2 linked regions of the Homo sapiens genome follow. Each later gene encodes a partner of the first gene's protein in a complex. Links are inferred from orthologs where the notes say so. Each region holds a gene or a part of one and is shown in the gene's direction. Other genes may lie near its edges.

The links.
Region 2: the proteins of S100A1 (region 1) and CAPZA2 are in contact, whole or in part, in an NMR structure (PDB 2KBM), measured with the Rattus norvegicus proteins. The link is inferred for Homo sapiens from one-to-one orthologs. Residues at the interface, in NP_001007637.1 of Rattus norvegicus: Ser44, Phe45, Leu46, Asp47, Lys50, Asp51, Ala54, Lys57, Ile58, Glu61, Leu78, Ala81, Leu82, Thr83, Ala85, Cys86; in NP_001009180.1 of Rattus norvegicus: Thr267, Lys268, Ile269, Asp270, Trp271, Asn272, Lys273, Ile274, Leu275, Ser276.

The regions. Positions count from the first base shown.
Region 1 is NC_000001.11:153,623,488-153,631,594, forward strand, and holds the start of S100A1 (protein S100-A1), read left to right. Parts: upstream 1-4,946; 5' UTR 4,947-5,009; intron 5,010-7,021; 5' UTR 7,022-7,034; coding exon 7,035-7,175; intron 7,176-7,523; coding exon of another isoform or gene 7,524-7,591; exon of another isoform or gene 7,592-8,107. Other genes in the region: S100A13 (protein S100-A13), read right to left, coding at 4,043-4,111, 4,634-4,750, 7,524-7,591. UniProt on the Homo sapiens protein: Small calcium binding protein that plays important roles in several biological processes such as Ca(2+) homeostasis, chondrocyte biology and cardiomyocyte regulation.
Region 2 is NC_000007.14:116,865,516-116,873,041, forward strand, and holds part of CAPZA2 (F-actin-capping protein subunit alpha-2), read left to right. Parts: intron 1-7,526. UniProt on the Homo sapiens protein: F-actin-capping proteins bind in a Ca(2+)-independent manner to the fast growing ends of actin filaments (barbed end) thereby blocking the exchange of subunits at these ends.

The DNA.
Region 1 (8,107 bases):
CAATTTTCCTGCTTCAGCCTCCCAAGTAGCTGGGATTACAGGCGCACACAACCATGCCCAGCTAATTTTTTAAATATATTTTTAGTAGAGATGGGGTTTCACTATGTTGGCCAGGCTGGTCTCGAAGTCCTGAACTTCTCAGTGAGTAAACTTCTCAGGAAAAGGGAGAACGTGGAAAGATGTACTGAGCTTTGAGGAGAGAAGACAAATTGTGAAATAATTATCTGAAAGAACTGGTAAATGAATCAACCAGGGAAACACAGAACCGCCAGGTATTGCCAAGGGTCCCTTTTGGGGTCTGTGGTTATAGATTTAAAGTGAGACAAGTCAACAAAGCTATGCATTTTTCTCCAGCCAGATTCAGCTATCCAAGTGCAGGTGCAGAACAGTGGATTTAACTGGCAAGTTACTATAGGTGAAATGGTGGATTAACTGGGTTGAGAACAGAGAGAGACAGAATCAACGGGGTTAAGGCAGTGATTACAATTAGAAGCCTTAGAACCTGAGGTGAGGAGGAAGGGCAATGAGGACCCGAGGGATGTTGATGGAAGATGCAAAAGTGAGAGGGTCGAGAGACTGAAGGTACCTGAGGAGTCAGGGAAGTGCTGAAGTGGAGAAGCTAGAGAGGGGAACAGAACTGGAATGACAGGAGGAGGTCAGCAGATAAAGGGAAACTTGAAATCAAGATTTTGGAAGTTGTGCGTTATTTTGTTAATGACACAGTCTAAAGCATGAACAGAGGAGTGGGATGCTGAGATGTAAGAAGACAAATCTTTTTGGAAATGAGGAGTTGAGAAAATTGAAAGGCCCAGATGTTGGATGAATTGTCTGTGCGGATGCTGAAGCCACTGAGAATAACAACAGAAGCAGTGATGAGAAGAAAACAGTGAGCCAGGAGCTGAAGAGCTGTAAGGAGCGCAATAAGAAGAATGGCAGGTGGCAGATGATCTTCCAAGGCGCTGGGAAGTCTTAGAAAGAAGAAGAAACTAAAATCTAGAGATAATGGAAAGCAGAGAGGTCACTTCCTCCATTTCCAGGCCCAGAGGAAGTTGAATTTAGGAAAAAAAAAAAAAAAACCACAATCACTGCTTGACAAGGATATAAGGAATGCTGTCCCTTCAGGAGAGAACCTGAAGTTTCCAGTAAAAAAGATGAAAAAGGAAACGTCTGGCTGGGCACAGTGGCTCATGACTGTAATCCCAACACTTTGGAAGGCCAATGCAGGAGGATCACTTGAGGCCTAGAGTTTGAGACCAGCTTGGGAAACACAGAGAGACCACATCTCTACAAGTAACTTAAAAATTAGGCCAGGCGCGGTGGCTCACGCCTGTAATTCCAGCACTTTGAGAGGCCGAGGCAGGTGGATCACCTGAGATCAGGAGTTCGAAACCAGCCTGGCCAACATAGTGAAACCCCGTCTCTACTAAAAATACAAAAATTATCCAGGCATGGTGGCGGTTGCCTGTAATCCCAGCTACTCATGAGGCTGAGGTAAGAGAACCACTTGAACCCAGGAGGCAGAGGTTGCAGTGAGCCAAGATCGCACCATTGCACTCCAGCCTCGGTGACAGAGTGAGACTCTGTCACAAAAAAAGAAAAAATTAGCCAGGCAGTGTGGCATGCGCCTGTGGTCCCAGCTACTTGTGAGGCTGGGGCAGGAGGATTGCCTGAGCCCGGAAGGTCAAGGATGCAATGAGCTGTGATCGCACAGTGGCCTGGGCAACAGAGTGAGAAACCCTGTCTCAAAAAAAAGTCTGAGAAGTTGGAAGTTGTAGGGGATTTTGCAGATGAAAGACCATGAGTTTCAGAGACTCACTGTGTTCAAGGAGTCCATATTCACACACTTCAACGTGCCTGTGGATTTTCAGAAAGGATGTAAAACAAACTGTCAACAGCCAGAATGACCAGGCCTCTTCGAGGCCAGAGTCGATGAAATTTAAGACCTGACTCCAGCCTGTGAGTGCGAGAGAAGGAATGACTCTTACACCCTAGTAAGGGGATGCCCATAGCGGGTAGGGAGTCTTCACAGATGCACCCACAGACCCCCTACACTGAGGTCTATGACTCCATGAATTTGGCTGTGTTTTCATTTTTGATAAGCCCCTTTCCACTGCTAGGCCTCAGTTTCCATATATGTGAAGTGAGGAATGCGGACTGTGTTTTCTCTTGGCCTCCTTCCAGCTCTGACAGTCTGTGAATCTCCTGGAAGCCAGCTCTGGGTCCAGTCCTGTCTTGGGGAAATTAGACCAGAAAGGCACAGAGCATACACAAGAACCCAACAGCATCTTCTGACACAAGACCATACTCCCACTGGCACATAGTATCTTTGCTTACCTAATTATATGCATGGACACACAAACACACACATGTACACACCAGGCAAGAAAACTCACAACCGGGTCAGGCGCAGTGGCTTGCGCCTGTAACCACAGCACTTTGGGAGGCCGAGGCGGGTGGATCACCTGAGGTCAGGAGTTCGAGACCAGCCTGGCCAACCTGGTGAAACCCTGTCTCTACTAAAAATACAGAAATAGGCTCGGCGTGGTGGCACACACCTGTAATCCCAGCTACTCAGGAGGCTGAGGCAGGAGAATCACTTGAACCCCGGAGATGGAGGTTGCAGTGAGCCAAGATCACACCACTGCACTCCGGCCTGGGCAACAGAGTGAGACTTTGTCTCGAAAAAACAAAAGAAAACCTGCAACCATTGACACATGCAGCCACCCACACCCTTTCTTGTGGTCACCTCACCGTACTCGGCACCATCACGTCCTAAACACAGTGTCCCATAATCATCATCTCACAAAATCTCAGTCCCAGACTTCTGCCTACCTTGAGCAGATGGGGCAACTGCTGGGTAACCAGCTCTTTGAACTCGTTGACGCTGAGGCTATCCTTCCGGCCCTCCTGCCTTGCAAAGGTGAAGAAGGTGGTGACCACGGTCTCAATGGACTCCTCTAGCTCTGTCAGTGGTTCTGCTGCCATTAGGACCCTGAGGCCAAAGCTGATGTCCTCAAGGGGCTAGCTGACCTTTGTCAGGGCTGACCTGTGGAAGAGAGAAGGAGCAGAGAGGGAGAGTCAGGGAGCCCCAAGATGCAGGAATGGTTCAGAAGGTCCCTGCCTTGGTGTTATCACATCAGTCTCAGCCTGGAGGGGGCATATGGGGAAAGAGGGAGAGGACAGGGGTTGAGCTTGGGGCAGCAGACCAGGCAACGGCATCTCAGTTTTGGTGGGGGCAGGAGATTCAGCTCCAGAAACCCCCTCTTCTGTAGGTCTCACAATCCGGGATCCTTTTTAAATGTCTGTGGCTTAGGGACCCCTCTGTGGTGATCCCTCGATCTGGAGACCCCTCTACTTGAGAGGAGGTCTTCAGTTGAAGGTCCTTCTTGGAGTCCTTCAAGTCTGGTGGCCCCTCTGTGGCGTGTCTGTCTCAAGAATCCCTTCTTGTCTCACCCAGACTCACAGGTCATAAGGTTGTTTGTCTCCAAAGCTTGTTTATGTTGGGCCCTGGTCTCCGGCCACTCGCATCCGCCCACACACACTCTAACCGCTCCTCCCAGCAGAGAAGCACAGGGTCTGGCAAATGTCCCCTGTGGTCAGAGCTGGCTCCGTCTGAACAGACCCATTTTCTCTGCCCCGCTCCACCCTTACCTCTCCTCAGCGGCAGCAGGGCAGAGTGCTGAACCCAGGACCCCACAGATCCTCCCCGCTCCTGTCTCCCGGTGACAAGGGTCCTGGAACGGGGCGTCTCTGACTCCCTGCTCCAGGACGGGTTTAGTACAGGCACTCACAACCCCCTGGGGTGCGGCGGGTGGGGCTGGAAGAGGCATTCTCTTTTCTGTCCACCCCGTCACACACTCCTGCACGCGCTGTTGCTCGATCATCCAAAGCTCCTTCCTGAATTCCTGTCTGAGCTGGCTCTGGGGGAGGGACCTGGGAGCCCAGGAAGAAAAAATGATCTCCAGCCTCCCTCCAGGGTCAGCCATGAGACTCACCCGGCAAGGAGATGGGGTAGAGTGAGCTGGAGCCTCAGGGCTGAGGTTTATAAGCAGCGGGGAAGGAGGAGAGAGCTGCTTCCAAGCCCGGAGGTGTCAAATTTCCGTGGTCGATTCTGAAGACCAGAGACAGCCCAATCAGGCCGCTTGCCCTGAGCCCTCAGGTCTGGACCCGGGCTCCCTGCCAGCCACACGAGCGCCCCCACTTGGTCAGGGAGAGGAGCTGCCTGGACAGATCTCGTTCGGCAGGGGTCCCAGGGTCCTAGTCCTCTCAATACTGGGGGCTGCTGCCACCATACCCATGTCTAATCAGGAGTGTGTATGCTGAGGGGGGAAGAGGGAGGCAACCAATCAAGGGAGCTCAACACTGAGAGGCCCAATCTGAGACACACACAGAGGCCCCTTGGAATGAGATCCCACAAAGGATGCTACAGACCAAGATCCCTCAGAGAACCCCAGGCTGAGGCCCCACACACAGAGGGGGATCCAGGTTGAGACCCCCAGAGAAGAGTCCTGGATTGAAATCCCTCTGTGGGTTCTCAGACTCCCAAGACTAAGTTTCTCACTGAGGGTCCTCTCAGTGAGGCCCCATGGAGGAGCCACAGACTAAGACCCCCTCAGCAGAATTCCCCCCTTACCGGGCTCAACCAGCACAGCCAGCCACAGGTACTGCAAGGCCCAGCTTGGGGTAAGACATCCAGTGTCCCTCCCAGGACCTCCTTCCCACCTCTTTCCCCTGCACCATCCACTGCTGCCTGGAGAGAAAGGAACGGGGCAAGCAAGGCTGGGAAAGAGACAAGGGCCGCCTGTTCCAGCCCAGGAGACAGAGGGCGCCTCTGTCTGCTCCTGGCCCCTTGCCCCACAGGGTGTTCGTCTGTGAAGGGGTGGAGTCGGTGGGGGGGTCAGCGGGGGAGGGACTGTTGAAGACAGGTCTCCACACACAGCTCCAGCAGCCACATTTGCAACCTTGGCCATCTGTCCAGAACCTGCTCCCACCTCAGGCCCAGGCCAACCGTGAGTACCCTGCCCCACTGGGCTAGTCCCTGGCCTGCCAGCTTCAGGGAGAGGGGTCTTCAGAAGGGCTCCAAGAGGCTGGGGACCATAGCACTGTGGAGCACTGAGGATCTGGGAGGAGTCAGTCAGGGTGAGGGCAGTTTGGGATTTGGGGGAGACAGGGTTTGGAAGGTGGTGATGAGAGACAAATGAACTGAAGGTCGGAGAGAGAGCTGGCAGCTCAGCAAAGGAGGAAGCCAGTGGGGAACCCACCATGAGCTTCCTGACCGCCTGGCCCTCCCACAGGGAGCCCTCAAGTCCCTGCCAAGGCCCCCTCTGTCTCCCAGGTGTTGGGAAGGGTCCCAGCCCTCCCCTGCCTCGCCTCCTGTGGGGTAAGAAGAGAGCAGATACAACAGCTGTTTCTGCCCCCACCTCTCCTGCCAGCCTTAGTCTCTGCCACCCCCACCCTGCCTTGCCAAGAGCTCAGGTCCCGGGGGAGTCTGGGGGTGGCAGGGCAAAGCTCCCATGATATGGGGAAGCAGAGATGTAGGGTGCTGTGCCCCTTCCCAACTCGACCTCCACAGGACCTCCCCTTTCTCCTCCTCCCATTTTTGGCCCAGACCTCTTGACTCCTCTTTCCCCCCATTCTTACCTCTTTGTTTCCCCATCTCCCCTGCCCCCAAGTCCTCTCAGAACTGCCACCACGTAAAATCCCAGGCTGCTTTAGGGCTCCAGGTGACCTCCAGCTGCCCCTCTGGCATGGAGCAGGTAATCAAGCTACCAGCACCCCTCCCTCAAGCACCCCTTATCCCCTCATCAGCCACAGCTTGGGTTCCATCTCCCCCATGTCTCTGTGACAACTGCTTCTCAGGTCCGGAGTTCAGATGACACTCACAAGGGCCCCATTGAAGAACTGGGATGTCATTCGATCAGGGGCCATTGTCCAGCCCCCTAGGCCTGGGGAAGGATGGGGACATCTGATCCGAGACACCTGAGCTGCCCCCTCTGGGGTTGTGGAAGGCCAGACTGTCCCAGGGCCAAGGGAAAGAGGCCCCCCGGCTTGGCAGTCTTCTCTCTCAACAGACCACTCCTTTCTCCTTTCTTCTCCTACTCTCTCCCAGCCCCTTGAACTCAAAGGACCGCATGCTTTCAGCCCTTTCTCTCCCCCAACACACAGCAGCCCCATTCCCCTTGCTCCCACTATCCCCGAATCAACCAGGAGTGAGCAGTTGCAGGGACAACGCCTGCAGGTCTCCTCTCCCACTCCCTGGGAACTCTGGCTCCAAGGAAAAGGCTCAGACATTCCTCTCTCCCCTTCTGCCACCCACCAGATGGAAGGGATAATTTTGCAGAGGCAATGGGAGCATATCCCAAAGAAGCCAAAATGACATGTTCAGGAGAGAACAGAGTTGAAGGACCAAAAGGGGCCCCCAGCTGCTGACAGGAAACTCAGAGTCAGTGAGACCTCCCTCCCCCAGAAGGCGTACGCCACCCACTGGGGCTGCCATCCCCTCTACCAGGCTGACCGAGGGTACCAGACTGACTCCTTGCTAGGGGTGGGCAGCAGAAGGAAGGCTGTAGTGGACACCCCAGCCCACCACCCTCAACAGCAGAGCTTGGCTATGCTAGACAGGCAAGGTCCAGGGTAAAAATAGAGCCAGAGGAAGCATGGCCCAGTCCTGTGACCACCCCTGCCTGCCCCACCCTCCTCAATCCCTGCCTGGGCAGCCACTGCAGACATCTACCACAGGCCTCTGGAGCCAGCCCAGCTCCAACTGCTCTCTCTCCATGCCCCAACCCTGATTCCCTCTGGCTGGGGTACAGACTGAGGGACACAGAGAACAGGCCTGCACTTAGGTCTCTTGGGGTTTCCCTCACATTGTAAAATCTCAGGGAAAGATCAATTGCAGTAGGGCTCTAATCCCACAGCTATTTGAGCTGTCAGCCAGGGCCAGTCCTGAGGGTTCCCCTCACCTAGACCCCAGGTACTCCGGGCCTGGTCCTCAGCTCACTTCCATGATGGGGGTGGGTAGGTGCACTGCTGCAATGGGCTCTGAGCTGGAGACGGCGATGGAGACCCTCATCAACGTGTTCCACGCCCACTCGGGCAAAGAGGGGGACAAGTACAAGCTGAGCAAGAAGGAGCTGAAAGAGCTGCTGCAGACGGAGCTCTCTGGCTTCCTGGATGTGAGCATAGAGTGGTGGAGTGGGAGTGGAGTGGGTGAAGGTTGGGGGAATGGGGTGGACACCCCCTTGCTATCTCCCCACCCCACCTCCAGCTCAGCCTAGCCTCTTTCTTTCCTTTCCCAGGCTTCTCTCCTGGGTTTTTCCAGGCTCCCCTACTCCTCCTGGGTCAAGTCAAAATGCCCTGGTTTATTGATCACCTGTTAAGTGTTAGGCCCTGTGTAGATTCATCAATAATAAGACACACAGACTTAGAAGGGAAAGATTGACACTTAAAAGTAAACCATGAACTCCAGGAAATACACAGAGCCTTAACAGATGTACCAGAAAGGGTTATGAGAGATTATTAACCTGATTGAAGTCAGATGGCTTTCCTGAAGAGGTGGCACTTGAACCATGGATTTCCATTGGAAGATTATCTGGGTAAATGCAGACATTTTAGGAGGAGGTAACTGAATGAACAAAAGCATGGGAGAAAGAAGAATGTGGAGCATGTCAGTAGTTTCATTCAACTGGCATGAAGGATGTAGAAAACTAGGCTGCTAAGGCTAACCAGGGCCCCAAAGTAAAGAAGCCTCAGGATACGGTAGAAAGTGCACCGGTTTTGAGGTTTTATTGGACTGGGTTCAAATTCCAGCCCTGCTACTTTCTAGCTGTGGGACTTTGGGCATATTTATTTAACCACCGATTACCAATTTGTTTCTTCTCTAGAATGGAAATAATGAAACATACCTCACATTATTTGTATTAGAATTAAATTAGACAGTGCTTGTAAAGCTCCTAGTGTAGTGCTTGCTTTATTATAGGCACTGAACATACGGTAACTGGTGTCATTATTATTCATTCTGCCAGGTGAAAGAGCTTATGCTGTAGGCAACAGAAGCCCTCAAGACCTTTGAGGAGGCCTAGAAGAGTCCCATAATTCAATGCAGTTC
Region 2 (7,526 bases), on another chromosome or scaffold:
AGAACCTCTTCTGGTTTTGTCTCTTCATTTTTAATTTGTTGACAGCTTATTTTGAAAAAGGAGAAACGTTGATTCTTCCTTAGACAGGGTCTCACTCTGTCCACCCAGGCTGGAGTGCAGTGGTGATCATGGCTCACTGCAGCCTCAACTTCCTGGGCTCAAGCAGTCCTCTCACCTCAGTCTCCCCAAGTAGCTGGGAGTACAGGCAGGTGTGCCAGGACACCCAGCAAATTTAAAAAAATTTTTTGTAGAGACAAGGTCTCACGATGTTGTCCAGGGTGGTCTCACACTCCTGGCTCAAACGATCCTCCCACTTGGGCATCCTAAAGTGCTGGGATTACGGGCATGAGCCATGATTCCTAGCCCTTTTTTAAAAAGTAATACCAAGCAAATAGTGTTAGGTTCTAAATTTTTGTCTTGATGATTTTAGAATAAAGCTTATTATTAACACATTTAAAGGTGTTATGTTACTGATAGGAAGCATTTTAGAAATCAATCTAGAATAATAGTTTTGTTTTTTAAAATCATACACAATTGCTTTTTGAGGATACTACTATGAAGTTTAATAACCTTTTCTCCTTTGGCCACTGGGTGAATGGGAAATAAATTTAGCTGAAGAACACAATGAAGTTCTTTAAAGCTCTTAACTTGCTATAGTGTGTCCCATAGACTTTTTTTTTTTTTTTTTGAGACGGAGTCTCGCTCTTTCACCCAGGCGGTATCTCGGCTCACTGCAAGCTCCGCCTCCTGGGTTCACGCCATTCTCCTGCCTCAGCCTCCCGAGTAGCTGGGACTACAGGCGCCTGCCACCGCGCCCGGCTAATTTTTTGTATTTTTAGTAGAGACGGGGTTTCACCGTGTTAGCCAGGATGGTCTCAATCTCCTGACCTCGTGATCCACCCGCCTCGGCCTCCCAAAGTGCTGGGATTACAGGCGTGAGCCACCGTGCCCGGCCTCCCATAGACTTTTTTACATAGTTACAGAAACCCTAGGCCAAAAACAGTTCATTTTCATTCCTGGGTCAGCTGTATTGTACAGTAAAGCATTTTTGTGAATTTGAAATTGTATGAAATTATGGTGTAAGGCTCAATTGAAAAGACCCATTCCGAAACCTCTCTCTGGATAAGAGATTCAAGTTCCAGAAGGAATACACTTAGTTACTGATGGGAAAGATCGTTTTTCTTCCTGTAACCCTTTACCTCAGTGATTACAATAATCTGTCCCATAGCTTCAACTTTTAGGTCTTTGCAGTTGTCTCCCAGGTACATAGCTGTAGCACTAACTTCTTTCCTGATTACTGGTCAGATTTTTATCTGCTATTCATGTTCACTGGAGATGGTTAATTAGGTATGTTCAAATGGAGCTTGCCTAGAAGTAAATTTATAAACGCCCATCTTCTTTCCTCTCACACAAAGGGGGGTATAATCTACTCTTGATAATTTTTCTCTTTATATCTTTATTCCCATTATTCCAGTCATCCTGGTTTTTAATTTCAGATTTATTCTAACTTTTTTTGGCCCTGTACCTTACAATCAACTGGTAAAAGTTGTCACTTCCATCGTCAAAATATGTATTATACAAATAACTTATTTCTTGCTTGAAAAGTTAATTCATTTATATTAATACTTCGTTTATTATCTCTGCATTGACCTGATTGTTAAATAATGTTTGGTAACAAAATTTCACTGTACAAACAGAATGCAACTTGATTATACTTGTTCTGTGCCAACAGTTAAGAAGTAAAGTCAAGAAAAATGTCTCATATCTGTTCTTTCCCTTCTGTTATATTTGCCACTGTTAGGCTTTTACTAGAAAATTTCTAGACTAATCCCTCCTGTTTCCTGTATCTAAGCCATGCTTTACTTTGTCATTTCTCTACTCTCAAAATTTTAGTGCCTGGATCCTCCATTGCCTTTACAAGGAAGCCAAGTTCTTAAAATGGTATTCATGGCCTTGTATTCCATTTTAACCTAAATAGTTCTGACATTTTCAATACGTATTGTTACTTAATCGTGCTGTGAATTTAGAGAGACTTCAGAGAGCTGCATACTAGTCCATTTCTCTCTCTTTTTTTTTTTTTTTTTTTGAGACAGATTCTCACTCTGTCACCCAGGCTGCAGTGCAGTGGCACGATCTCGGCTCACTGCAACCTCTGTCTCCCAGGCCCAAGCAATTCTCCTGTCTTAGCCTCCTGAGTAGCTGGGACTACAGGCACACACCTGCGTCCCTAGCTAATTTTTGTGTTTTTAGTGGAGACAGGGTTTCGCTATGTTGCCCAGGCTGGTCTGGAACTCCTGAGCTCAGGTGATCTGCCAGCTTTGGCCTCCTAAAGTGCTGGGATTACAGGCGTGAGCGACCACTCCCAGCCACTGGTCCATTTCTAGCACCTCAGATAAATTATTTAATCTCTCAGCCTCAGTTTGCTCTGAAATGTTAGAATGTTGTAGTAAGTACCTTCTTCATTAAGTTGTTGTAAGTCTAAATGGGCTTGGCATGTAGTAAGCGCACAATAAATGGTAGTTATTTTTCTCTGCTCATGACTTTTCATCTACTTTGAGTGTTGGTACTGCTCCCAGGTCTGTCCCCTTTTTTGAAACATGAAAATCTCAGTCATCTCTCAAGATTTAGCTTAGATTACACAGCTAGTTTAGCCTCTCATCTGAACTCTTCAAGAGATCGTTAGTATTAAATACAATTTTGCGTAATAGTTATTTGCTTACCGTTTTTTCCCTTTTCCATTGGAATTCCTAAGTGGAGACATAATGTCATCTTTAGCATCTGTTGTTACTCTACCATGTGATGAATAGGATGGCTGTACCTGCAGTTTATATACTTCTCCCTCAGTGACTGGCTTCAGAAATTTTGTGTGTGTAAAAACAATATAAGCTGCCATTGTATTTCATAATATTAATGTAAAATTAGAAATGTTTTTATTGGCTGGGCGCGGTGACTCACACCTGTAACCCCAGCACTTTGGGAGGCTGAGGCAGGTGGATCACCTGAGGTCCGGAGTTTGAGACCAGCCTGGCCAACATGGTGAAACCCTGTCTGTACTAAAAGTACAAAAAATTAGCTGGGCGTGGTGTCGTGCACCTGTAGTCCCAGCTACTCGGGAGGCCGAGGCAGGAGAATCGCTTGGACCCGGGAGGTGGATGTTGCAGTGAGCGGTGATCGCACCACTGCATTCCAGCCTGGGCAATAGAGCAAGACTCCATCTCAAAAAGTTTAAAAAAAAATTCTTATTATTGAGAAGGTAAACTCAAGCAAAAAGCTATTAATGTGGACAATATTCATTCCTAATTCTATTCTATAGATAAATTATGTTATTTCACCAATAAAGTGTAAAAACTTCTGTTGCAGACAGGAACTTGATAGCAGCTGTAGCATTAGTGGAGTTTTTCAGACTTTGTACATTAAAGTAAATTTGTAGTAAATTTTCAGTGCATTTGGGAGCCATTTTTGCATGAGTAGTTGAATAGATAGAATAATTGCATGTTAGTGTGAGAATACAGATATGAAAACACTTAGAGCAGAGAATCTAAAATAATTTTTAAGGTTGAAAAGCAGGATGGCAAAACTTGGATCTGTGGTTCCAAGCTATGACCTAAAAGCCTAATCAGTCACCTGAAGCAAAAATTTGTTAAAGTTATTATAGCAATAATTTGTTAAATAGGAGATTCATGCATATCAAAGAAAATGGGGTCTTTGTCTTCTGAAAACCACTCTCTGACAGGTTCCATGAAAATACCCATGGCTGTTTCAAAAAAGAATTTCATAAATTTTATTTTGAGGATTAAGTATAGTTTTTGCATTCTTGCTCTTATGACATATTTACATGTTTCACTATGCATCTAATGACTGAGAACTTTTCTTATACATTCTAATTCGCAGTGTTTCTACTGGAAATGACTTTTGAAATCCATTTACCTCCATCTTCATTCATTTACTAAATATACCACATTTCACTGATTTCAGTACTGATACTTTTTTATATTTTAAGATCTCTGAAATCAGGCTGCATTGTACAATCAATGGGTTGTAATATTTCATTGGTAGCGTTTTTCCTTGTTTAGTGGTACATAAAGTTATGCATCTTATATTGATTGTGAATCAGGATAGGCAAGGATATAGTTCAGTAACAAAACTCCTAAAATCTCAGCACAAGGGTGTTGAATGTGGAGGCTTTGTACTGCATCTCATTCATTCCATGTATGTCTAGCGTGAGTTAGCAGAGAGCCCTGCTCAGGGAAGTAATTTAGCGTTCCAGTTGGTTAGAGAGCTTCCATCTAAACTTTCTTCTCAGTCACTGCAGTGGTGGGAAGGAAATGGAATGAATTGCACACTTGTTTTTTTTGTTTTGTTTTGTTTTTTTGAGACGGAGTGTTACTCTGTCACCTAGGCTTGAGTGCAGTGGCACAATCTCGGCTCACTGCAACCTCTGCCTCCCGGGTTCAGGCAATTCTCCTGCCTCAGCCTTCCGAGTAGCTGGAAGGAGCTCACGTCACTTCTGCTCAGATTTCAATTAGCTAAAGCAAGTTACATGTATAAACCTAATTTCAGAAAGGTCAGGGCAGAAGAGGAGAATTGGAATATTTGTGAATAGCAGTAATGACAGCATAGATTAAGTTTTAAATTCACTAAAGTGTAGCGATCACCTGGAAGGTAGATATAATGCAAAACTAGATTCGAAGAGGAATTGGACATATGTAATATACATACTAAATTGGGTCTAAAAATTTAGAAGATAGAAAAGCTACTTCTGCCTAGGGGTATGGTAAACATCAGTTGGGGTCAAGCTCATACCAGAGAGCACAACATAGGGAAAAATAACAGGAAAGTGGGAACAAGCAGGCAGTGAGTTTTGTGTAAAAAGAATTCAGTTAAATAGTTGAGTGTCTACTCTATATTTGGTACTTTTACAATAAGAGATGCAAAGGTGAATTGTGCTGTTTAACAGCTGACTGTCAGGGTTTTTCCATCTCATCAATGTTGACAGTTTGGGCCAGATATTGTTGGGCAGGTGGACATGCTGTGCGTTGTAGGGTGTTTAGCAACATCCTTAGCCCACATGATATGCCACTACCATAACCCAGGCTTACCAATCCAGAATGTCTCCTGGTGGACAGATTCACCCCTTGTTGAGACCCATGAGTCTAGATAGATTAGAGCTGGTAAGAACAGTTGAGAACCTGGCTTAAGTGGACTTTAGGACCTGGTTTAAGTTCGTCCCACAAGAAATGGAGGAAAAAAAGATCGCCAATAGATTTTAGAGTTGGAATCAAGAAGACTTGATAAATGAATATAGGGGAAAGGCGTGAGTCAGAGAAAACTGTGAACATTAAAGTCTGGATGACTGGGAATTGGTACCACTAGTAACAACTGGAGAACACAGGAAAGAGGATACACAGCTGGGAGGAATAATGGTGAATTTAGTTTTGGTTGTACGGAGTTTGAGATGCTAGTCATTGTCTATGTGAAAATGCCTAGCAGATACGGAGATAGAGAAACAGCTTGGAAAAGAGGTCAGCTCCAGAGATTATATAGAGATTTGAGAATCCTCTTTTTGTGGGTTAAAGCGAGATGGGATAAGCCCTTTAGGACAAAAAGCTTAGACATGGGAAAGAGGAGAGGGCAGGAAGCGTATACTTTATACTTTGATTTGAGGAATAAGAAGTGGAGAGAGACCTAAAGGTGAGGAGAAACCCTTGAGGTCGAAGTGTTACCTACTGATAGCTAGCACAGAGTAGGTGCTGAGGTCACAGAATGTGACGAGAATTTCAAGAAGGAGCGGTGCTCAGTGTTGCAGAGATTAAGGAGTATGAGATTGAAAAAAGCCTTTGGATTTAAGAGAAAGGAATGAGAAACAAATTATACCTACTCTATGCCAGGGACTTTAACATGTATTCTCTCTATTAATTGTCAGAATAACCTTGTTATTATCTTCATTGTACAGACAGGAAACTGGTGCAGTTAAGGCTGTTTAAGTGGTGGACTAGGGATTAGTGGCCTTCAAGAGAATAATTTTACTAGTGTTTGGAGCAAGGAGTGGAGAGACATAAGCCAGATAACTGGAGTCTATAATAAAAAGTATGTGTGTATTTTCCCTTTTCCAGAAACGGCATTTCAGTCTTGTTTGCCTTGTAAACTACTCATCTTTGGATAACCAGACTCAAGGACTTTCTTCTCTTCTTTTGTATCCTGACATACCTCTGCTCCCTAAGCAATTTGTACTTATCTTTGTTATAACATTTACCAGTTTTAATAAATTTACCTGTTGTCCTTATTTCCTGTGTTCTTCAGGGCCAGGCCTTATGTCTTCACCATCTTTGTAATTCCAGTAGAGCGCCTAGCCTGTATTAAATCAGTGATTTTCAACTCTGGCTGCACATTAGAATCAACTGGAGAGTTTATAAACAAAATGAACGCACAGGCTCCTCTTGTGGGTGAGGCCTGGAGTGTCTGTAATTCCTTTTTGTTGTTGTTGTTGTTGTTGTTTTAAAGCTTCCCAGGTGATCTGAATGTGCAACTAGGATTGAGTCTCACTGTATCACTGTATTAGGGGCTCAATAAATGTTGACTAAAGGATGAGGAGTGGAGACAGTAAGTACAAATTATTCTTGAAAAAAATTGGTAGTGAAACAAAAGAGAAAAATATGTATTACTACTTTGTTTTTTCCTGCTATTTCATTTTAAGAATACTTTTTTTTTGTAAGAGAACATTCTAGGGTGTATAAGGGAAATGATTCAGAAGGGAAAAGGAAATTGAAAACGTAAGATAAAGAATAGTTTACATAACTTACTTTCTTTTAGTTGATGATAATGCCTACTTTGGATTCATGGGTTTCTTCATATTTTAAATAAATGGTAAAAACATATTTAAAGAAGAATCAATGTTGAGTTCTTTAGATGACCCAGTTTCAGGTTAAGTGCTGTGGGCCCTGTTTTTAATTACCAATCAAAATGATAATTATAAAGGAAAAAAATTTAGAGGAAAACTTATTAAAACAAATTACCACTCTTAAGTTTACCCATATTAAGATAAATTCACCTGACACACAGACATGTGATAGTGATCACTTGGTCATAAACTATTTAAATGTCATAAAGTTCAAAAAAGTGGTTTTTTCCTCCGGTTTTACCTCTAATTCTCAAAAGACATAGCCATTTTTTAGAGAGCTGTGGAAGACAACTTCAAATAATTCTTTTAGTTGAAGTGGAAAAGTGCATAGTGGCTCCTTTAATTTTACTACCAGTGTCTAAAGCAGTGACCCTTTTTGGTGTTACATTTTCTTGAGAATCAAGTAAAACCTATAAGTCATTTCTCAAGAAGACTAGACACTTCAAATTTTACATCTGAAGTCCCTTAGGGCATGGGTGCAATATCTGGTCACCTTTCAGAATCACGTGGAGAGATTTTCTAAAACATAGATTTCTAGGTCCCCATTCTCTGGAGATAGATTCACTGGGTCTGGAATAGAGGGTGGGAATCTGTATTTTTTCCAAGCTTTCCAGGTGAGTCTGACTGC